3 separate regions of the Homo sapiens genome follow, and all the other regions are linked to region 1. The links come from fine-mapping of genetic effects on plasma protein levels. A gene starts in region 1. Each other region holds a variant in brackets. All regions are shown on one strand. Distances are between the middles of the regions.

The links. PIP is the posterior inclusion probability: the model's chance that the variant is causal. Protein levels are from antibody-based Olink assays in UK Biobank. Linkage for the fine-mapping came from a reference panel and not from the study's own genotypes, which makes the PIPs less certain.
Region 2: its variant is fine-mapped to the plasma level of the C9 protein (UK Biobank, PIP above 0.99). The variant lies in the coding sequence of C9. If it changes the protein, the assay may bind it differently, which can mimic a change of level.
Region 3: its variant is fine-mapped to the plasma level of the C9 protein (UK Biobank, PIP 0.98).

The regions. Positions count from the first base shown.
Region 1 is chr5:39,361,456-39,369,741 of GRCh38, forward strand. C9 (complement C9) reads right to left here and starts at 3,040. Exons shown (of 11, transcript NM_001737.5): 1 at 2,933-3,040. The coding sequence starts at 3,009.
Region 2 is chr5:39,284,435-39,292,720 of GRCh38, forward strand. It overlaps C9 (complement C9), which reads right to left. Exons shown (of 11, transcript NM_001737.5): 10 at 4,289-4,517; 11 at 1-799. The coding sequence ends at 765. Among named protein-coding and RNA genes, the nearest start is that of FYB1, 69 kb to the left of the region's middle. The variant A/G (reference allele first, on the strand shown) is at 4,507.
Region 3 is chr5:39,322,918-39,330,917 of GRCh38, forward strand. All of the region lies in intron 5 of C9 (complement C9), which reads right to left. Among named protein-coding and RNA genes, the nearest start is that of C9, 38 kb to the right of the region's middle. The variant G/T (reference allele first, on the strand shown) is at 4,869.

The sequences.
Region 1 (8,286 bases):
AAGGTAATGATAGCTACACTCACAGAGCACTTCCTGTTTGCCTGGCACTGTGCTAAGCATGTTGTCTTTGTTATCTCAGGTATTCCTCACAGCAGGACACATTATTATTCCCATTTAGCAGGTGAGGTACAGGTTTAGAGAAGTTAAGGAATTTACTTAAGGCGCAGAGCCAGTAAATTGTGGAGCTGGGATCGAACCCAGGCCACCTGGCTCCAGAAGCAACGCTCTGAGCTACTATTCTACTCTCATGGTGGTTTTAAACATTGATGCTCTACCTTGAGAAACATAAGAGATGATGTCCCCCTCATGGCCAGTTCTCATGGGCACATTAATCTTTGTAAAAAAATAAAAGAAAAAAGAAAAAAACAATAGTTAGAAATCCCTGACAGTTCTCCAGTAATAATAGGTCACTGTAGCTGTGGCATGAGATGTCTTCAAGCCATGGGAGAGCCCTGAAGGCTAGCTGTAATTCCAACCCTTCCGTCCTAAACAAGAAAGATAGCAAAGTGAAAGCACAGGAAGGTTATTATTTTTTTTAAATACCTGGCATTTATTAAGTTCTTACCATGCGCCAGGCACAGATGTCATAAGGACATTACATGTATACCTGTTTAATGTTCACAACGAAAACCTTATTAGACAGATGCTATCATTACCATTGTGATGAGTTGAATTGTGCCTGCCCGCCAACCCTGAAAGGTATGTTGAAGTCCTAACCCCAGATAATTATTTGGTCCTAAGTGTCAAATAAGACTGGGACCTTATTTGGAAATAGGGTCTTTACAGAGGTAATCAAGTTAAAATGACATCGTTAGGGTGGGCCCTAATCCAATATGACTGGTGTCCTTTTAAAAAGGGGACATTTTTATAAAGACATACACAATGGGAAGATGATGTGAAGATGGCCATGTGATGATAGACACATAGACTGAAATGATCTGAAACCAAAAAATAAAATACAAGGGAGTGCTGGCCACCACCAGAAACTAGGAGGGACCCTTCCCAGAGTATCGGAGGGAGCACGGCCCTGCCAACACCTTGATTTCAGACTTCTAACCTCCAGAACTGTGAGACAATACATTTCTTTTGTTTGAAGCCATCCAGCTTGTGGTGCTTTGTTATGGTAGTCCCAGGACATAAATAAAACCACATCTTACAGACGAGGGAAGCGAGGTACAGAGAGGCCAAGCAACCCGCCCAAAATGACACTGTTGGTAAGTAAAGGCACCTTGACCTGAGCCTGGGAAGTCTAGCTTCAGAGGATTTTAAAAGTTATTTTGCAAATTTCAGTTAGCTATTATTCAAACAAATCGTCTCACTTCATGACTGAGGGCTCTGAACACTCTGTTTTGACCTCAACCCCCGTCAAAGGGCAAAGCACAGAGCATTCAGAGCAGGGCAACCGGGGCAAACTCAAGAGGGCATAGCAATGGGAGCCCACGAAACCAAACCAAACTCAGCCGTGCAGCTGCTGGAGCTGGGGTCCAGCTAATGGGGCTTTCCGGTCCTCCCTGAAACAGCTGAGTGTGGCCAGGACCCAGGGGGTACGCACTTCAAAGCAATCAAAGCTTCCCCACAGCCTCTCATTTTTGATCAGCAGGAGCTGCAATCTAGGAATGTGGGTTGTTTGAATTATTATTATTATTTTTTAGCTTAAGAAAGGGTCAGGTGAAGTTCAAGGGAGCTAAAGCAACTTGGAGGAACTGCCTTTCCAAATCCCTTTTGTGCCCAGATGCCCACTAAACAAAAATATTTCCTGAATGGTACAATGCTTTACAGATAATATGGAAAGAGGAGGGATGAAGGAAAGGTCTGGTCGAGCACTGGATCCAGGGCCCATGTTCATCTGTGTAGCACCTCTGGGTGCCCCCTCCTGAAAGATACAGCCCTGTGAATAACCCACTTGTTGAGTGGAGCCCAGGCTGAATGGCGGCCTCCAACTGCAGCCAAGAGGCAGGCAAATATGTACTGGAGACGGGCATCAAAGTTCAAAACAGCATTTGGGTAAACCAAGAGTCAAATGACTAATGAGGAATTGGAAGCAGGTTATGGTTATGTCTGAGCAGAGGAACAGGGCTTGGGCAGACATTTCCCCCCAGCCACACTGTTGAAGTGAGGAATATTTCAGTACTCTCCCCAGAACGGATCATCCTGTATTGAATTATACAGGTCGATGTCTACTCTGATGACTCCAGGATGGAAGGAAGGATGCCTCATGTGACCCTAACCTCCACCATTTCTAGGTACAGTGTAGCTGTTCAATAAAAACTTATTATATGGGTGATTTGTTTCCTGGATGACTTGCCATGGGCTTTGCAATTCCGATTAGGATCAGAGAAAAAGGAGAAAAAGTATCTTTGGTAGAAGCATGAGTGACAGGTCTGCATCACTGCAATTCTGGAATGGAAGAAATATGACCTAAATCCCAAATGGCCCTAAACAAAATGCATGCCTCTGAACACAACTCAGGATGTCAAGGGAAAGAAACAAAATAGTTAACCTTTGCCTAATGTGGAGGCAAAAGGGTGATGTATCCAAATGTTAAAGGTGTCAGGCATTGAAGCAGAGTGAGGGAAAGATTAATTTCCTTAATTTTAAACTTCTCAGACATCAGGCACTAATAAACCCAGGTTCATCATACACTGGTGAAAACAAGCTTTATTTTATAATTCCAGATATTTAAAGAATACCTCAATCTTAACATTTGAGTGCCTTGTTGAAAATAAATCCCCAGAAACAGCAGCACATTTCCACAGAAAACTCATAAAGATGCACCCTATGTATTTTCTTATCTCTTTTCGAAGTTTAGATTCTAGGGCTCTGTATATTGCCATGTGGATTAACATTGTCATGTACTTTGCTGCTAAGAAGACCTTGAGATGCTAATCCTACAGGAAACTTCCAGAGACAAGCAGAAAAGTAACTGACTCACCTGGTCGTGTACTGTGCTGTGAGGATGCTTATTTCTAAAATGCAGATTGCAACTGCAAAGCTCCGGCAGGCTGACATGCTGCTCTTGCTGGGTGGCTGCGAGTGGGGTGGCAGGGCAGGTCTGGTAAGGCATTTATTTGCAAAGGGCCAGAGGACAGGGAACAAGCATTGTTTGTCTGCATTCAGAGTTTTTGTCAATTTGGGTGGCCTGGGTACTGAAGTCCAACCAAAGGAGAATCATTTTGTAATTCTTGGCCTCCTGCTTTCTCATATTGACAAGTAGATATGGGGCAATGGGCCTGTGAATGCTAAAGTCCCTAAGATGGGCAGCAGTGCTGTGTGAAAATGGAAACAAAGGCCGGGCGCAGTGGCTCACGCCTGTAATCACAGCATGTTGGGAGGCTGAGGTGGGTGGATTACCTGACGTCAGGAGTTCGAGACCAGCCTGGCCAACATGGTGAAACCCCATCTCTACTAAAAATACAAAAAATTAGCCAGGCATGGTGGTGGGTGCCTGTAATCCCAGCTACTTTGGAGGCTGAGGCAGGAGAATTGCTTGAATCTGGGAGGCGGAGGTTGCGGTGAGCCGAGGTGGGGCCACTGAACTCCAGCCTGGGCAACAAGAGCAAAATTCCGGCAAAACAAAACAAAAACAAAAACAAAAACAAAAAAATAGAAACAAAAATGAAGGACCCCCAGCAGTTCTTAGTTTGCAAGACTCGAGGGGTTGGGTGGAAGATGAGGGAGTATGCAATTTTGGGGAAAAAAAAGCCTGTGGATGCTTCTCATGGAGGCATGAAGTCAAAGTTAGTAAAGAACTGCACTTAGTGGAAAGGATGGCACAGACGTAGATGCTTCATTTTTTTTTTAATCTGCAAATGGGCTAGGTAGGTTATTTCCACGTGAGCAAATGCATTTACAATCCTGGCTTTCCTTATAGGCCGAGTGGTACATTTTGAAGAATGAGATGTAAACTCCCGAAGGCATTAAGGGCGTCCACCAGAAAGAGTGGTCTCCTTATCTCAGCATCACACATGTCAACAAGATAGAATCTGAGACAGAAAAACTTGTTCCTACCCATGAAAAATAGTCTCCCCCTCACATTTCATGCTTCCCAGCACTTGTGGGAAGAGCAGTGCCTTTTTGGGAACACCAGAGAATGTGGACATCACAACTGCTCTTAAAGCACTGACTGCAAAAATAGAATGACCTGGGGACTCTTGAGAACAGTAGTGATGGCTGCCCGCTGTCTGCTCAGCTCTAAGTTAATTGACTTGTGATGAGACCCTGCATCCATGCTTTTAAAAGCTTTGCGGATCATTCTAACGTGTAGCCAGGGTTGAGACTGAGGATGACCACCTTGAGAAGAAAGACATCAGATATCTCTGGATATAGTTCTTAAAGGGACTTTATAAGTATTATTATTACTTATAGGCAAATTTCAAACATTAGCACATATAAAGACCAGCAAAGCAAGGGGTGGAGCTGAGGGAAGACAGAATATACAGCTATTTTCTCCAGTACTGCCTTACCTTTTCTACTGATATTCCTACCTGTGGTAAAAGGTATCTACTCTCACCCACTTTCTTGGCCCCTCTCCTTTTTATGCAGAGAACTTGAGGTCTTCAATGGGACTGATCTCACCTTTTCCTGAGCTTGCTGTGGAGTGTAGGCCATGCAGAACTGCCAAGTAATAAGATGATTCGAATGGATGCCACAACTCGTGTAACTATGTCATGGGATGAGTCCATGCCTGAAAGACACTTCCTGTGAGTCTTGGCTAATAACAGGTGGGCTACATTTGGAAACAGTATGAATCTGTCAAATATGCTGTAGCAGGGCAGGTGCAGTGGCGCACGCCTATAATCCCAGCACTTTGGGAGGCAGAGGTGGGTGGATCACTTGAGGCCAGGAGTTTGAGACCAGCCTGGCCAACATGGTGAAACTTCATCTCTACTAAAAATACAAAAATTAGGTGGGTGGGGTGGTGTGTGCCTGTAATCCCAGCTACTTGGGAGGCTGAAACATGAAAATTGCTTGATCCTGGGAGGCAAAGTTTGCAGTAAGCCAAGATGGCACCACTGCACTCCAGCCTGGACAACAGAGTGAGACTCTGTCTCACAAAAAGAAAAATGCTGTAGCAATGTTGAGGGCTCTTATGAGGCCTCTCTGGACCCTATCAAGATACTTATGGAAATAAAGACTGAAAAGCAGTCAGGATGGGATGCTTTATACTAACTAGATTTGATGCTAATTGATTAGAAGTTGTGATGATTAGACTTGATAAGTTGATGTGACTGGAGATTGTACATCACCTGTCTCTTTGGAGACTAAATCAATGGAAGGGGGATGAGGGAGTGAGGGGATATTTTTGGCTGACTAGTTTGAATAGGAGGCTTTTCTGAATTGCTCAGTTGTATTTATTTTATCACCATAGTTCAGGTTAAATATAATGTAGAAAAATAATGACAGCAGTAAAGTATACTAATAGCATATTAATTATATATTGGCAATATATATTGTATTAGTCCATTTTCACACTGCTACAAAGATACTACCTGGCTGGCACGGTGGCTCACCCCTGTAATCCCAGCCCTTTGGGAGGCCCAGGAGGGCAGATCACCTGAGGTCAGGTGTTCAAGACCAGCCTGGCCAACATGGTGAAACCCCATCTCTATAAAAATACAAAAAAATTAGCCAGGCATGGTGGCGGGTGACTCTAATCCCAGCTGCTTGGGAGGCTGAGGCAAGAGAATTGCTTGAATCTAGAGTCGGAGGTTGCAGTGAGCCGTGATTGCACCACTGTACTCTAGCCCAGGCGATAGAGTGGAACTCCGTCTCAAAAAAAAAAAAAAAGATACCACCTGAGACTGGGTAATTTACAAACAAAAGTGGTTGAATTGACTCATAGTTCTGCATGGCTAGGGATGCCTCAGGAAACTTATAATCATGGTGGAAGGTGAAAGGAAAGCAAGGCACTTCGTAAATGGCATTAGGAGAGAGCAAGAGTGAGGAAGTGCCACACTTTAAAACCATTAGCTGGCTGGGCGTGGTGGCTCACGCCTGTAATCCCAGCACTTTGGGAGGCCGAGGCTGGCGAATCATCTGAGGTCAGGAGTTCGAGACCAGCCTGGCCAACATGGTGAAACCCCCCATCTCTACTAAAAATACAAAAATTAGCTGGGCGTGGTGGCAGGCGCCTGTAATCTCAGCTACTTGGGAGGCTGAGACAGGAGAATTGCTTGAACCCAGGAGGCAGAGGTTGCAGTGAGCTGAGATCGCTCTGTCCCACTCCAGCCTGGGGGACAAGAGCGAGATTTTGTTTCAAAAACAAACAAACAAACCATTAGCTCTCATAATTCACTCACTATCACAAGAACAGTACAGGGGAAACCGTCCCCATGATCCCATCACCTCCTAGCACGTCCCTCCCTCAACATGTGGGGATTACAATTCGAGATGAGATTTGAGTGAGGACACAGAGCCAAATTATATTATATATTACATATTATAATTATATAATTATAATATATGTAATTATATATTACATATAATGCATAATTATAATATAAAATCATAAATATTATATAAATATATAAAATATATGAATAATATGCTCCACATTTTTATGCTTTTAACTCTTTCTTGTCCTTAACATCTATCATGTGTCTGAGGTGTTTTGAAATGAGGCTTATGTTTCTGTGTGTATGTCAGAGAAATAAAGCATCATCATGCATTAGACTAGAGCAGTGAAAATAGTAACATTTTCATTTGTATAACACTTAAAGGCTTCCAAATAACAAAATAAATGTTTATTGAACTTCTAATATGTGTCAGGCCATATTTATATATGCAATCTCATTTAATCCTGAAAATAATCTGTTTTACAGCTGAGGAAATGGAGACACATTGAGATTACATCATTTGTCCAGCGTCAGCCAGGGACGAGTAACTGCACATTTGTACTTGCTATGTCTGGCTCCACATCTCAGGCTTTTCCTACCTTGCTATTACTACTATTGTTATTATTTTAAGTACGTCATGTTGCTTATAGGGTACTTTACTATAAAATTCGTTACTGAGTCCTGTCAACTCCATAGAAGGTAAGCTTTTATTCTAGTCTCACAGATGAGGCTCAGAGAAATACCTGCAAGGCTACACAGAAGAGGCAGGGGTGAGATTTGAACAAACCATGTCTTTAAACTCTGATTCCAGGGTTTTCCACTCTGCTGAGGGTTTTCGCCATTCAGTTGCCCTTTGTTCCCTTCTTAGTTTCAATTTTCTTGGGAACTTTGTGATAGTGAACTAAGTTTTTTGCTTAATAATACTTTTCCCAGTTTTTAAGGCAAACATAGACATATGTACATTAAAACTTTGACCAGCAGGCAGAAACACTTAATTTTTACTGATTTGATATAAATATGTTGAGGGTCATTTCCATTTGACTCTTTTATAGTGAAGGAAACAGTTTCTTGAAAGTCCCTTAGCAGTAAGTTAAGGGATCTTAGTATCCAGGGATCTCATTAGGAATGCCTGCCCCATTCCATAGCTGTTTCTTACTGACTGTCCAAAGATCCACAGGTCTTGCAATGCCACAGTGAAATTTTAGAGCTTCCACTAAGGAGGCAGCATCAGACACACCCGAGAAGCATCCTCTACTCAATTCCAGCCCAGTCATGTTACCCTGTAACTTTTAGAGCAGCAATGATTCTGCTTTCTTGTAAGTAAGATAAAATAATGGTTGAAATCAACCAAGTGAATAAAGAATTGACAGAAAACTCCACAACCAATATCACAAGGAAAAATTAGTCATAAAGAATTTCAGAGTTGGGTTTTTTTTTCCCTTCCATTTTTAACAACCTCATCTTTCATCTCTGCAGAAGGCCAGCTTCTTTGCCACTGAGCAGCCCACACCATGGTCTTGCTGGAGACAAGCACTTGTATGATTTCAGTATGTGGTAGAGGTTTAGTAATTAAATGCAGGACACAATTCCAAGCAAGGGCAAATGAGGGGCTTGGCCACTCATCAGGTGAGATGACAAATGGCTGGCCCTTGTCCATCAGCGTTGCTGTAATTACAACATGTTAACAGAGCTGCTGCCAGTACATAGCCTTGTATATGTCCCTAGGCTGATATTGTACATATCAGCCTAGAACATGAGTTTTTATTTTTAGCAGAAGGGAATTAGTTCAAAACATACCATTTCCCAGCAATAATTATTTGTTTTATTGTTTAGCAACCTCCTCAAATCGTAATAGCTTAAATATTTACCAGGGGCTTTGGGGCAGCTCCCATCTTTTCCCAGATTTTGTATTAAACGTATTCCGGGAATATGGGTCAGAGTCCTCACTCAT
Region 2 (8,286 bases), 77 kb before region 1:
TAAAATTGATGTTTTTTCTTGTAAAATATGATCAAATAGAAGGAATTTCACATAATTTAAACTAATAGTTTATGTTCATTCTATTCTGCTACTGAACACTATCTATATTATTCCTTTCATCTAACTGGATTTTTGTACCCATTAACCAACTCCTCTTTATCTCCCTTCAGTCCTCTGGTAAACTAGTAGTTTTTGGTTACAAATATAATATGTTTTCCCCCTTGGACACATGGATTTAAATCGTAGAGCTAAGACTAGTAAAAGCAACTGCTGTGCACGTGGCTGGTGCTCAGCATTTGCTGAATGAATGTATGCACACCTAAGCAAATAACCAAACTAAACATAACAATGTAAATAAGAGTTAAATTGCATGGTACAGACGTGTGGTCATGGACCTGGCAGAATATGTTAACCATACAAAGCCGTTTGAAAATTACTTTGAAGTTTTTTAAACCAACATTCTGTTTTTAATTTAATTTTGTTTTTTTTTAGAAGAGATTGGCATTTTCCGTGGGATAAAGCAGTTCTGGCGTATTTCACTGTTGACTTCTCATTAGGGAACAAAAAATGGAAACATCACAGGAGTTTAAGGAAGAAAAATTTAAAAAAAAATTATAGACCTAAGAGAGAAGAGACTTCAGAGGTTGGTAGGATTTTCATGAAGCATGTTGCTATTTACTTGGCAGCTAAGATTATCTTCAGGGGTAGGATCTGAAGGTACTAGTGTTTTCTTCTTCCACTGGAGCTCAGAGAAGCCAACAGCTCTATTTTTCATTGGGGAACTCTAGGGCTGGCAATCCTAGAGAAAACAAATAAGTATCAAATCTTAATCATCAATAGGATTTTACTTTGGGTCCATCCACCCATCCGCTTTTTCACCTTCTTATCCTCTTGCACCACGTTGTGCCATACTGTCTAGGTACTGGGAATAGAATGTGGTGTAAGGTACAAGGCACATTTTCATACCAGAAAGGGCTATTTGTCTTGTATACAGAGAGTCAATGTGATTAGTGCTGGAAAAACAGAGGGAAAGTTCTCAGGCAGCATAGATAGAGAACTGATTCCTGGAGAAATTGGAGAAGGTTTCATCAAAGATATGCTAATTGGACTGGGTTCAAAATAGAGGTTTTTAACCCTGGCTAAAGATTAGAATAACCAGTAGATTTTTTAAAAATTCAAAAAACAAAAAACCCATGCCCAGGCAGGATCTACCATGGCTGCTTTTGTTTAATTGGCTTAGGATAGACATCTGTTTTGTTTTGTTTCTTTTTTTTTTTTTCCTTTAAGGAAGTGAGCCAGATGAATCCAATGACCAACCTGGTTGAGAGCCATTGGTCTAGGAGTAGAAACGCACACAAGGAATAAGGGAGAAGGAGGTTCGGTTAGTTGAGGGAGAGAAAGTTGGAAGCATTTCAAGCTAAGTAAATGGTATAGAAAAAGAAAGATGATGTGTTACGGTTTTCAATCTCATCATGGGTGTAAGCTAGTGTAAATTGGAAACTAGAACATTCTATGTCAACATGGATGCTTGGAAGATCTACCTTGAGGGAAAAATTCAACAAGAAAATGTCTAATGTCTCAGCAAGAAGCTGTGGGCCATCCTGGGTCAGGTTTGAAAGGTCAACCAAACAATGCCTAGTGATCAAAGATAATTTTATATTGGGGAAGGGACCTTGATATTCATTATCTATGAAACACAACATATGGAACCCGAACCAAGAACTTTACATAAAAATCTAGTGCAAGACTGATGAAAATGATAGGACCTCCTAAGAAACAAACTAACCCTAAGAATATGTTCATTATCCAGGGAAGACGGGTTTCCACAGGAAATAATTCCCACCAAAAACTAAGCCTGTAATAAAAAATCACTAAGTACTGAAGAAAGCATAATATGCCATGAGAATGAATTGGTAGACTTAGCAGAGAATTGCACTGCAGAAACAATATATACTGGAACAATTTGAAAGAATTCCGTGAAGATATATTTAACATGTTGAAAGCTATAAAGGTAGGAAAATAATCCAGTAGACTAGACAACAGAAAAAACTAGACAAAAGAAAATTGAAAAAGAACCAAATCAAAATTTTAGAAAAATACTTTTAAAATAATCTCAATAGGTCAGCAAATGGATCGACTATACAAAGTTGAATAAAATAATTGGAAAATTAAAAGCTAGAACTAAAGAAATCACAGAGAAATCAGCAGAATATTCTACATAGAGAGAAATAGGTAGAAAATAGACGTTCCAAGTACCAAGTAGTATACATTTTTGGAGAGTGAGAGTTTTTTTTGGAACGCAAAGCACTAGATTGAGACTTTAGACCGATGAGAGACAGAGTTAGCATACATTTATAAATCAATCATTCTAAAATTTAAATTAAATTCTAACTTACATATTTTGTCACCACATGATTGAGTTTCTAAGCCATTTGCTGAGAAGTGTAAAAAATTCATAAAATATTAAAAATTTATATTGTAAGAGATGAAAATATGGTTGAATGATAAACGAGGCTGTGAACTTTGGCTACATAATTGTTTTAGAATTTTGTTTCAGGAAACTGTATTTGTTCAAACAATGATTGCCATAGAAAGTTAATCTTAATAGCTAATCTTGTGATATTAACACTTGGACTAAGATCTCACTAATCTATTAGGAGTCTGAATAATTCTACCAGAATGAAATACTAAGCATAAACTCTTAGGATTAGAAACATGACTAAAGTCATGTTTACTTGTAGGAAGTAAAATAGTTTAATTGAGTCCTATTTGTCTATTTTTGTTTTTATTGCATTTGCTTTTGAGGTTTTAGTTATAAATTATTTGTCTAGGCCAATGTCCAGGAGAGTTTTTCCTAGATTTTCCTCTAGGATTTTTATAGTTTCAGATCTTACATGTAAGTCTTTAATCTATCTCAAGTTAATTTTTGTATATGGTAAGAGAATAGAGATGATTTCTCAAAAAATTAAAAATAGGACTACCACTCAACAGTCCCACTACTGGGTATCTACCGAGAGGAAAATAATCTTTATATGAAAAAGATGCCTGCACACATATGTTTACTGCAGCACATATTTTGATGTGCAATAGCACATATTTACAATACATATTTACAATAGCAAAGTCATGGAATCAACTTTCATGTCCATCAATGGATGATTGGATAAAGAAAATGTGGTACATATGTACCATAGAATATTATTCAACCATGAAAGAGAATGAAATCATGTCTTTTGGAGCAACATGGTTGGAGCTGGAGGTCATTATCCTAAGTGAAATAACCCAGAAATAGAAAATCAAATACCACATGTTCTCGCTTATAAGTGGGAGCTGAACAATGGGTATGTATGGACATAAAGAAGGAAATAATAGACAGTGGGGACTCCAAAAATGGCGAGGATGGGAGGGGGATGAGGGTTGAAAAATTACCTGTTGGGTACAATGTTCACTATTTGGGTGATGCGTACACCAGAGGCCCAAAGCTTATCATTATGCAATATATCCTTGTAACAAACCTTCACATGTACCCTTTAAATTCATAATAAAAATATTTTTAATGTAAAATAATGTTTCCTTATGATTAACTTAAAAATACAATACAGAATCTCAGCTTTCAAAAACACAAATACAGTTAAAAATGCAAAATAAAAATCTAGTGAATATCATTTATATAAAATTTAAAAACATACAAAACAATATCACATATTTTTCATTGGTACATACATATTTAGTACAAGCACAAAAATATGAACTGGAAAGATACATACCAACTTAATGAAAGTGACTGTATCTGAGTAGTAGAAGAGAGAAAAGGCAATAGAATTTTTTTGGGGGGCGGGGATGTGGTACAAAGTAATTAATTGGATGTATTATTGTTGCTTCTTAAAAAAGGGTTTTAAAGTATATATGTCTACGTCTATACACATAAACACATATATATGCAAAGTGTATATGATATATATGTATTAACATTCATCAATTCTATATAGTGAATACCTGATGTTTGTTGTATTTCTGTAAACCTTCTATAAGAATATTTTTATAAAGAGTAATACAATAATTATAATTTATTTATTTATAATTCTATCTTAATATATACAAGTAGAATATGTCAGAATGACACATAAAGGCTGATTTACCCATTTTCACTATTCACTCAATCTTTATCTTCTGTTTATATAAATAATCTAGAGATTTAGTACAAATTAATTCAAGAGCTAGTTTTCAAATTAGATAACCCCAAAGTGCATATTTTTGTCTTTAATCACATCAAATAAATTGTCCTCACCTTCAGAAATTTTTTGTTTACTGATTTCACAGGCAATTCCCTCAAATTTGAATGGGCAGGCACACAAACACTTTCCATCCATTAGAATCACTGTACCTCCATTTTGGCATGTGTGGCATTTTCTTACACTAAATTCATTGATATAGTCTTCAATGGCTCTTTCCAAGTTTTGTTTCTTTAGGTGTGCATTTTTCATTTTCACTGGAACCAGATTATAT[A/G]TAGGAGACAGCTGAAAGGAAGCAAAACATTTAATTTTAGGTCCTTTTTAACTGAGAGAACTTGTAGAATACACTTTACTTAATTATTCATTCACTGATTCATTAATTCAACAAAGACTTATTGAATGTATAGTATTGCCAGATGTGATGTTAGCTTTTAAACAATCAAAACTAGTCAAGATGACTGCTATCAGGGAGGTCATATTACGGAGTTAAGGAGGCTGATATTAATAAAATAATGATGCATAAATTTCAAATAGAAAGTGTGATAGGTGCTACAAAAAAAAAACAGGTATATGTGCTTTAAAAATGAACAACTGAGGGACTTAAACTTCTGGCTTGATAATTTATTGACATATTTTGTGAATTGTTTTTGCTGCCTTCTTCCTTCTCTTCCAGAAGGTAACCAGATGCTTGCTATCTCTTGCCTAAGAGGAGGTTTGTGTGCAAGGCCAAGTCCAGAATGCCCCTGAAGGCAACCTTTTTCTAATTTCTTTCTTGTTTTTTTTTTCCTCTAAAAGTCTAAATTCATTGAGAAATTTTTGTAGAGGGAAGGAATATAGAAGAATGCCACCAAGGAAAGAGATTCCTCCAGAATAGAAAGGGGATAGAAGTTAGTATATACCTCAAGTAACAGGAAACCATAGCTAGATATTTAGCAGCTATTTTGGGAGATAGAAGGACCTATGGGGTGCCTTGAGGAAGCTGCATATGAAGTATCAGGAATCCAGTCTTGTCAGTGATTTCCATTTGCAAGCCTGGCATGGAGGGCTTGGAAATATTTGACTTCTAGTGAACATGTGAGCCTGAACAATAAGGTTATTGAGGTAACTACGATGAACTAAAGGCATATGTAAATTATATCTCCATTTCCCAGATGGAAGTGTTAGGATTCTTATACCAATTTAGACAGCAGGGAAAAAATTTCCTGAGCCCCATCCAACAAGTAAATGAAAGGTGAATTTTCTAGCAACATGGAGGGACATGATCTCAAAATCACATTTAATTAGATGTAAAGAAAATGAAGTAAAAGTATTTATTTGGCACACTCAAATTCCTGCAGTAAGATACACAGTTGCTACACTGAAATCAAGGAAGTTTGGAAAGCTTTGACAATAAATACTGAGCTGAGATTTGAAGGTGTCAAGGCAGAGAGAAGACTATTTCAGGCATACAGTAAAGAATTTTGAAAGTTTTTAAATGGAGGAGGAAGTTGGGAAGATGTTGTTCCAAAGATACAAAATTGTAGTTAGATAGAAGGGGTAAGTTCAGAAGATCTATTGTGCAGCTTGATGATCATAGAAAAAAATTAAAAAGTTCTTATAATGGAGATATCATAACATATACAGGGAAATTTATATGTTCACTTAATTTAAGCAAATTCAATTGTGTAACTAGCAAGAGCTGTTTGAGTGAATAAACTGTTAGAAATAGAGGCACTTTGGTGGCAGAGCACTTTAAAACAAGAGACCACAAAACTTAAAAGAAATGAGAATCTATAGAGCCCAGAGCTAAAACAAACAAACAAACAAACAAACAAAAACAAAAAACAAACCAAAAAAACCCCACAAATTCCTGCAGAAGAATAATGATGGATTAAATAATGTGGACTCATCTTTTCCCTAAGGACAATGAGGAAAGCTAAACAAAATAAAACCAAACATTTTTTTTTAAAACTGCTAAAATGCCCTGGACAACTAATAAGAAAATAAAAAATCACTGATCTAAGATCTGGGAGGAGGTGGAAATCCAAGAGGTGGGCCCAGTATTCTAGGGCTACTAGTCCTCTTGACACATTTCCTAATTCAGCAAGAGTTAGTAGAGAGACTAGGAGGTAGAGCAACACATTACTGAGCTGAGGAAAAAACACTGGAATTCAGATCAACCAAGGTAGACATGCTATCCTTTGATTTGGGGACTAAGAGGGAAGTGGAAGTAGGATAGCTCTGGCAGAAACTGCAGCCCAGTTTGGATTAAAATAATCTTGGATCATTAGTGGGGATGCTGGAAGCTTTTCAAATATAAATATATATGTTTGAAATATACAAAATTACCCCAGGCATCAGGCTACTCCTATAATAATTTTACGTACAGTATTTAGCCCACAGTAAAAATAACTAGGCACACAAGGAAATAACACAACATGAATGAGACCAGTGGAAATTATGGAAAATAGAAACAGCTATGGTGGCTGCCAATGTTTGTGCTATCAGACTTCAAACAATTATCAGACTTTAAACCAACTGTTTGCATAAACAGGGAGATAAGAGACAAGTCTGAAAATTTTAGCAAAGAACTGGAAGTTATTAAAAATAGATTTGAAAAAAAGAAACAAATATTAGAATACAAATTAGTGAATTAGTTAAATAGCAAATGTGATAAAACTGAAGCAATTTAATGAATTGCAATATAGGTAAGAAGAAAATATTGACAATAAAGCATGAAGAGACAAAAGGATAGGATATACAGAAAGAGGGAAGGAAACATAAGTGATAGTGTGGGAAGGGAAAAGATCCATATATTTTGAGCCCCAGAAGGAGAACAAAGGACAGAATAAATAAGAAGCAATATTTGAAAAACTAATGACTGAGAATATTCCAGACCTGGTGAAAAACAACAAGATATCTTATGAATAAAAACTACGGTGAAAAATAATTTTGCAGCTAGGTATTATCAGAGAAAAATTGCTAAAAAAACAAAACCCAAAGACAATGGAGAAAATCTTAAAAACAGTTTAGTAAAAAGCCTTAGTATTTTGAAAGTAGACTAAATTTGACTTTACTAGATACAATCAATAATATTATAAAGAGTCAAATGGAAATGTAAAAAATAAAAAGCATGATAAAAGAGATGAAAAATATCTTTGATGAGTTTGTCAGTAGATTTGACACAGCAAAAGAAAGAATCAGTAAACTTGATAAAAGGGTGGTAGAAATTAGCCAAATTAAAGTGCAAAGAGATAAAAGAATTGAAGGGAGGGAACCCAGAACTAAGCATCCAAGAGTGTGGGGCAATATGAAAGAGACTAGCACATGTGTTACTGGAATCCTTGAAAAAAGTGAAGAGGTTATAAGAAGGGGTTGAGAGGGGGAGAGAAAGAGAATGTGATTGTGGCAGAAGAAATATTTGAAGATATAATGACCAAGAATTTTTCAAAAGTAATTAAATAATCAAACCATAGACTCCAGAAATTTAGGGAACTTCAAGCAGAATAAATATACATCTCATTCAAACTGTGGAAAACCAAAGATTAAAATGAAATCTTCAAGGCGATGACAACAAAGGGAAATGCTACAAGCAGAAGGTCAAAGATAAGAGTTACAGCATACTGCTTATTTAAAAACTATGCAAGCCAGAAGACAAAGGGGTAATATCTTTAAGTACTGAAAGACAAAAACAAAACAAAACAAAAAAAAATCCACACAAACTGTAAACATAGAATTTTATACCTAATGAAATGTCATTGAAAAAAATACTTTTTTTTTCAGAGAAGAAAAAGCCAAGAGAGTTTGATACTAGCTAATGCACACTAAAAGAAATGCCAAAGGAAATTTTTCAGGCAGAAGAATTACCACAAAGAACTAAAATTTGGACCTACATAAAGTAATCATGAGCTCTGAGCATAACTAAAATGAAGGCAAAAATATACCTTTCTAGTTTTAATTGCTCTAACATATATTATCTACAGCAAATGTTGTCGCATTGTAGTATGAGTTTATAGTGTATGTAAAAATTTAAAAATATGTATGTAAAATATACATACACTATAAACTCATGATA
Region 3 (8,000 bases), 39 kb before region 1:
AGCATCTAAGGATTTAGCTATTTGTGAGTGGTCCTGGGACCAATTCCTCATAGATACTGAGGGACAGCTGTACAACTGATACCACAGAAATATAAATAAACATAAGATATTACTGTGAAAAATTATGCACAAAGAAATTGAATAACCTGGAAGAGATGGATACATTCCTAGAAACATACAATCTATCAAGACTGAATTATGAAGAAATAGAAAATGCAGACCAATAATGATTAAAAAGATTGAATCAGTACTACAAAAAGTCTCCCATGAAAGAAAAGCCCAGAATCTGAAGGCATCAGTGATGAAGTCTACCAGATATTTAAAGAAGAACTAATCCTAGACTTTCTTAAAATATTCCAAAGAATTGAAGAAGAGGGAATATTTCCAAATTCATTTTATAAGACCAGCATTACCCTGATATCAAAGCCAGACAAGAACACTGCAAGAAAAGAAAATTACAAGCCAATATCCCTGATGAACATATATGTATATATATCTTCAATAAAATATAAACAAACTAAATTCAGAAATATATTAAAATGATCATACACAATGATCAAGTGAGATTTATATCTAGGATGCAAAGATAGTTTAACATATGCAAATCAATAATTGTGATACACCACATTAATGGAATGAAGGATAAAAATTATATGATCATCTCAATAGATGTAGAAAAAGCAGTCAATAAAATTCAACGTCATTTAAAGATTAGAAAAACTCTCAACAAATTAGGTATAGAAGGAATGTATCTCGACATAATAAAGGCCATATACAACAAGCCCACATTGACCATTATACTCAGTGGTTAAAACTGAAACTTTTTATCAGACGTCAGGAACAAGACAAGGATGCCCATTGTATCTCTGTTCAAAATAGTACTAGAAGTCTTAGAGCAATTATGCAAAAGAAAGAGATAAAAGGCATTTAACTCAGAAAGGAAGAAGTAAAATTGTCTGCAGATGATATTCTTTTATGTAAAAAACCCTAAAGACACCACCCAAAAAACAAAACAAGACAAAAAATGTTAGAACTAACAAATTCAGTAAAGTTGCAGGATACAAAATCAACATGCAAAAGTCTGTTGCATTTCTACTCACTAGCTACAAACCATCTAAAAAAGAAACTTTTAAAAATACCATTTACTACAGAATTAAAAAGAATAAAACACTTAGGAATAAATTTAACCAAGGAGGTGAAAGAGCTGTATGATGAAATTCATAAAACATTGATGAAAGAAATGGAAAATATACAAATCAATGGAAAGATATCCAATATTCATGGATTGGAAGAATTAATATTGTTAAAATAGCAACACTGCCCAATATGATCTGCAGACTCAATGCAATCCCTATCATAATTTTATGTCATTTTCCACAGAAATAAAAAGAACAATCCTAAATTTTGTATGGAACCACAGAAAATCTCGAATGGCCAAAGCAATCTTGAGAAAAAAGAACAATACTGGTGGCACCATGCTTTCTGATAGAGGGGGTGTAATTTGTAGGCACCTGCACTTGTATGTGAAATGACTAGAAAGGAAATGGCATAAGGCAATTATCAACTCAGCAGCGTAGAGGGCCACTTTCAGATATAACAGATTGTTGGTCAGGGTATCAATTAGGATGTTGTTGAATGGCTCAAGAAAAGGTAGCTTTTCTCACTATGCCAGAATGGTAGTGGCGAGTACAGCCTGAAACTCTGAGGATGGAGTCATCCCAGAAAGCATAGGAATGAAAGCTGAATTGGGAAATGGAAAAATCCATCCATGCGAAAAGAAGTCTAGGCTCAATGTTAAGCATTCAGAAATAGACCAATACTTGTAACCATCATAGAGAGAAAAGCAAAAGTCTTGGACGAGAGACCAAGGGGCAAGATTACAGAAAGCAGAAAAACACAAAGATGGAAGCAAGTTTCTTTATGAGTACTGAATAAACAGATGTTGGAGAAGCTAGATTCAGAGAGAGAAGATCAAGGGGCTTGCATGTTCTAGGAGGCCAGACATATTATAAGGGTCAGTTGAAGTTATCCTGTTTAAGAATTTGTTCATATAATACTCCTTGAAAAGAAATAAACATTGCTTATGGCACTAAAAATGGAAGAGATAGACACGATCAAGAAATATTTCAGAGTTCAAGTTGTGGAGGTTTGGAGAGCAGTTGTAAATAGAGAGTAAGTAGAGAAAACTGTTGAAGATGTCATTAAAATTTTATTTGTACAAATGGATAATAAAACCATAAACCACATATTAGTTATTATTATCAAAGCCATCTCTCACTAATTGAGAGAAGAAACCTATGAACAACAGATTCATTGTAACCTTTTGAGGCACCCCTCTGCCAGAACCATCTAGCCAAGCTACTGTCACATTCTTAACCCTTTAGCCATTAAGTTTTGGGGTAATATGACAGTAAAGGATAACAAGTACAATCCATCTCTATTATCTATAGAATATTTTTTCTGTGCCTAAATCTTAAACGTTTGTGTGCTCTAGGACTTCAGTCTCTATGTTCTTCTCTTCTCCCTCATTGTACACTTCTTTGGTAATCTCAGGCACCCTCAAGAATGCAATGATCGCCAGGCGCGGTTGCTCACGCCTGTAATCCTAGCACTTTGGGAGGCCGAGGCAGGCGGATCATGATGTCAGGAGTTAGAGACCAGCCTGACCAACATGGTGAAATCCCATCTCTACTAAAATACAAAAATTAGCTGAGCACGGTGGCGCACGCCTCAAATCCCAGCTACTCAGGAGGCTGAGGCAGGAGAATCGTTTAAACCCTGGAGGCAGTGATTGCAGTGAGCTGAGATTGCGCCACTGCACTCCAGCCTGGGCAACAGAGCGAGACTCCATCTCAAAAAAAAAAAAAAAAAAAGATGCAATGATCATGTGTATGTTAATTAACACCTAGATCTCTTTTTACAATTTAGATCATTCTCTCCATTTTGATTCAAATAATCTCCTTGTTGTAGGATAACTCCATCTAATTTCATATAGACCCTCAAACTCAAAATTACCAGCATTCGAATCATTATCTTCTTAGAACCCACTCCTTCTTTGGTAGATTTCCTGCACATCCAACTTCCCACATCTCTTTTGATGGCCTATAATTCACTGGTTGTTTGTGTGGGGTTTTTTTTCTTTCCATTTTTATAGGGTCCATCTATAGAAAATTTAGTTTGTGATAGGCACTATTCTAATCACTTCACAGTTATTAACACATTTAATCTTTCTGAAACCCTGTGAAGTGTATACTATTATCATATGATTTTATCATGGAAATTGAGATCCAGGAAATGTAACTAAGTTGCCTAAATTCACATAGGTGGTAAGTGGAGGAAGTTACCAAAATTTAAACCCAGAGAATCTTAATTCAGAACCTTGTGATTGATCATATGCTATACTGTCTCCAATTTATTAATAATTTCTTAATTCTTAAATATGCTGGATTTTATCTCTTCTTCTTCATCTCTACTATTACAGACCCAGATTAGCCTTTTGTCATCTGCTTCTTGGACCATAAAATAGCCTCCTTCTGTTCTCATTACCTCTGGTCTTGTTCCCTTAAAATTTATTTCCACAAAACACAAAGTTCTAAAATGAAACTCTCAGGGTTTTGCTCTCCGGAGTGGCTCCCTCATTATGCTCAGGACTATGCTCAGTGTATTTATTATGGCACATGAGTGCCTTCATGATTTAACCCCTGCCTATGACTTCAACCCTGAATGCATGAGTTTATTTGTAGAACAGAGTCCCTTTCAAGATAGCAGTTTCTATAGGGAAAGACTACATATTTTCCACTTGAGAAACATCAACATAGGACAAATAACCAGGTATGTAATAAGCTTTATCTGCTGCTAGATTTTCTAAATGGGCTTAAGTTGTCAGTAGAAAGAATAGTTGGAATGTGTATTAAGCCTCTGCTTGCAATTTTGCTGTCAACTTTAATGGCAATTCCAATTAAATATTTGTTTTTTGCCATCATTAGAAATATTAACTTACAGTGTTAATATGCTGGCATGAATTTTTTATTCATTCAATAGGCATTTATCTAGCATAGTATACAATATAGTTTTTCAGTATTCTGTGGTAAATAAAAGGGTGAGATAGCAACCAAAAAGCACGTATTATACAGCAAAATATATACCAAATAGAGAAAAAATCAAAGCATATTGCATTTATTTGTAGGAGAAGCATTTTAGAAGATGGAGGATTCAGAGGAGAAAGCTGAGGGTGGAGTGGCAATCAAAAATCAGATCAGGGATCACTTTGTACTCCTTGCCAAGGAGATTGACTACTACACTGCAGGCTATAGATAGACACTCACCAAATTTAAGCTTCAAGGAGAATGATCAGATTTATTATTTTTACACTGAAATGTGGGGAATGAATTGAAGTTGAGAAAAGCTAGAGGCTGTAAACTAAGAACACTATTTTGAGTCATTCCTACATGAGAAGTGATGGGAGCTTAAGGCAGTGGCAGTGGGAATGGGGAATAAGAAACAGATTTAAAGGAGATTATAATAATAGAACTTGAAGATTGATTGGATATTGTGGGTTTTGAGGGAAATGAGTCTGTAAAGAATGTCTTAAGGAGGGATTTCAGGTTTTGAGTTTGATGACTAGGTTGATATTATTTCCACTTACCAAGACAGAGAATTCAAGAGCAAGAAGCAGGAAATTGGGAGTAAGATTGGTTATCAGCTGTAGGTATGTTGACTCTGTGACAATGGCAGACAACTGGATATACAAGCATCTAGTTCAGAGAGAGATGTGGGCTGGAAATATAGGATTTGCATGCAATCAGAATAGAGTGAAAACTGAAGCCATAGGAGAAGAGGAAAAGGAAATCACTTAAGAAGAATATATA[G/T]AGAGAAATCAGTGAAGCAATGTAGGAACTCTGGAAAGAGTTCAATACTATTTAAGGATTCTCCAAAAGGGAGCTCAAAATAAGCTTGAGATAGACTTGAAGAGGGTTGAAAAATGCATAGACACAAGATAACAGAGAGTGGGGAATAAATGCAATGCACATATGTTGAGATAGCAAGTGTAGACAACATGGGTATATAGAGATGGCAGAGGTTTCTTCATTTGTTTCTTTATAGATGAGACCCTTGAAAAAGATTTATATATGAAGGCCAGAGTGGAAGGAAAAAGAGGGAAAGGTTGAGTGGAGGCTTAGCAGAATGTCTAGCAATGTACTTGGAGTGGGATCCAGGCTAGGGAAGAGAAAGAATAACTTCCTACTGAGAGAATAGGATGTAAAGAGGGACTGAGTAGCAAAGTAAGTACACAGAATAACTTTGAAGAAACAACTGTGAAAGCTCCTGCCTATGACTTGGGTATTCTCTGTCAAGTTGGAGCTAATGTCATCTGCTGAACCCAGGATCAAAATGGTGAGTAAGAGTAAGAGGCTTGAGGGTGTTGCTGAAAGATTGAGCCTGCTCATGTGAAGAACGAGAATGAGGAAAGCCTGAGAAGGTGTTACAGACCTACTGAACAATGTGGAGGACTCAGTTGAAATTATAATGCTAGCTGTTTTTGTGTGAGCATAATATTCTCTTTAGTGTTCAGCAGTGTAAGTTTACAAGTAGGGCAGAAAACAATAAGGTTCATGCCAAATCAGAGTTTTTCTGGATTGTAGGAGGAATGGAAACAAGGACATTGCTAATATTGGCAAATGTAGTCAAAATGGATCTAGCTTGGATGAACAAAATAATTTAAAGTAGGAAGAGCAAGATATACCAGGAGAAAAAAAGATTCCAAAAAGACTGAAGGTCTAGATGAGGCCAAGAAGAGGTTTGTGGGCATAAATGAGGGTGAGAGCTGAGAGGTTAGACAACTGTGATAAGATGAGAGGGTTAAAAGTTGGATTTTCAAATTTCAGAGACAGCAAAGTTCTGGTAAAGACAAAGCCAAGGGTTAGGTGGCTAGAAATGAGAGTGGCTGTAGTGAAATGGTATAGGAAGTTATGAGGCAACAAGAAATACTTGGCAGTCCACATGATATTGAAGTCACCCAGGATTTTGGCAGGATTGGGGCGAAAACTATGCTTATAATCTGTGTGCATTTTGCAAATTTTTGTTCATCTCCCAAATCTTACATTTTCATGGAGACTCAGATTTAAGAAGAATTATAATGAACACCTGAAACCTGATTTAGGCTTACAAATTGTTATTCAACAACAAAAGTGAAGAAACAACCAAAGAAAAGTAAGTAGAAAAGGACCTAAGTTATAAACGCAATCATCACTCCCCCCTCCCCTTTTTACTTCTACAGTTGTTCTTGGTCATTACTGCTAATTTATAAAGTGGTCAGTAAGTCTTGACCTGCTGTGTGACCACTAATTATGTACCTAGCTTTGGCTAAGTCTTTAACTAATTATACTCTAAAATGAATAATAGCTAATATTTACTGAGGGCTTGCTATATGCCAGTGACTTTCTGAGTGTTTCACATATTTAGACCCATTTATCTCCATGAGGTAGGCATTATTATTTCTATTTTATAGATAAAGAAACTGAGGCACAATGATGATAAGTAATTTGCCTGAGATTTTACAGCACTAAGGGGCAGAGGTGGGATTTCAACCTAAGCAGAGTGGCTCTAGAACCACAGCCCATTAGAGACAAAAGACCCTAAATGAGAGAGTATGAATGGATGAGAATAAGATGTCATTATTTAGGTGCATTCCCATGTTATGATGGACCAGTATAATTCTGTCAAAAATGAAAGCCAATAAATTATTGCCAATAAGTAACTAAGGCAAGAGTTAAAAAATTATTTCATCCAACAAAAACTGGTGAGGATTATATGGAGTTGGTATTGGTAATAAGCTATAAAGAAGTATAATATGTATAATTTGCCTTCAGGTACTACTGATACACATGAGAAAGTAAATGACATATTTCATTAAGTAGTAGGAATTAAAGAAAAAAATCATCTCTAAGGAGTTAAAGTAGATATTTCCCCTCATGTAAGTTTGTGTTCTTTTATGTATAATAATAATGAGTTTGGCTACTTATTTTCCAAGACCATAACAGATTTGAATAAGGGGATTATCAGCAGTGGGAGCAGCAACGGAGTGATGTGGAGGCCTTAGCCAACCCCTATTCAACTCCCACTGCCCCAGTTGGCATCAAATAAATATTCAAGTCCACAATTCCTATCTTCTTTCTAATAAGCTTGACATCAAACTCTTTTGGGGGTATTAATCTCACCTGAACTAGTAAAAGGTATCTATAGTCTTCATTTTTCCCACCATATATGAACATAGATTAGTTTTGCTACAGAAATATTGATGTGTTAGATTATGTGATGCTGCTCCAAACTCCATTGTGATTTATATCACACCACATCACCTTTCTAAAATACCAAACATTCTGAAATGCTGAAACACATGTGTTTCCAGGGTTATGGATAAGGGAAAGCAGTGCTTCCTTTCCAAACGTGGCTTCAAGATCAGTCCTGGGCAGCCCCTAGCCGTCACTATTCTATGTCGTACAAGTTATTACCCCTCTGGAGAAGCTAAGAGCTGATCACAGTGGTGAAGACAGGAAAACCGTAAAATGCAGACTAAACTCCAAACAAACTAAATCAACACAACAATAGCCCTTCTCCCATCAGCAATGACCAAGGTGACCATGTTTGGTATTTTCTATTTAAGAAAGGAGAATGTATGTAATACTTTTTAAAAATAATTGTCATCTTTCCATCACAAAAATCTGTGCTTAAAGAAGTTTAACCTGGCATTATTGGGGAAAACCAACAGCCCAAAAGATTTCCTCAGATTTTTTGGCAACTGACATATTCTGACTTATAGGTATAAGAAACATGACTACATGTGAAAAAAAACATGCCAGTCAAATGGTCAAGATATGACAGTCTTTAGCATTCATGAGAAAACATGATTGCTTCTGGCTGCAATATGTAGAGACTGATTTATGATATTTTCAGAAAGTAATGCTTATTTAAAAGCATACACATTTTTCAAACTGGTGGGA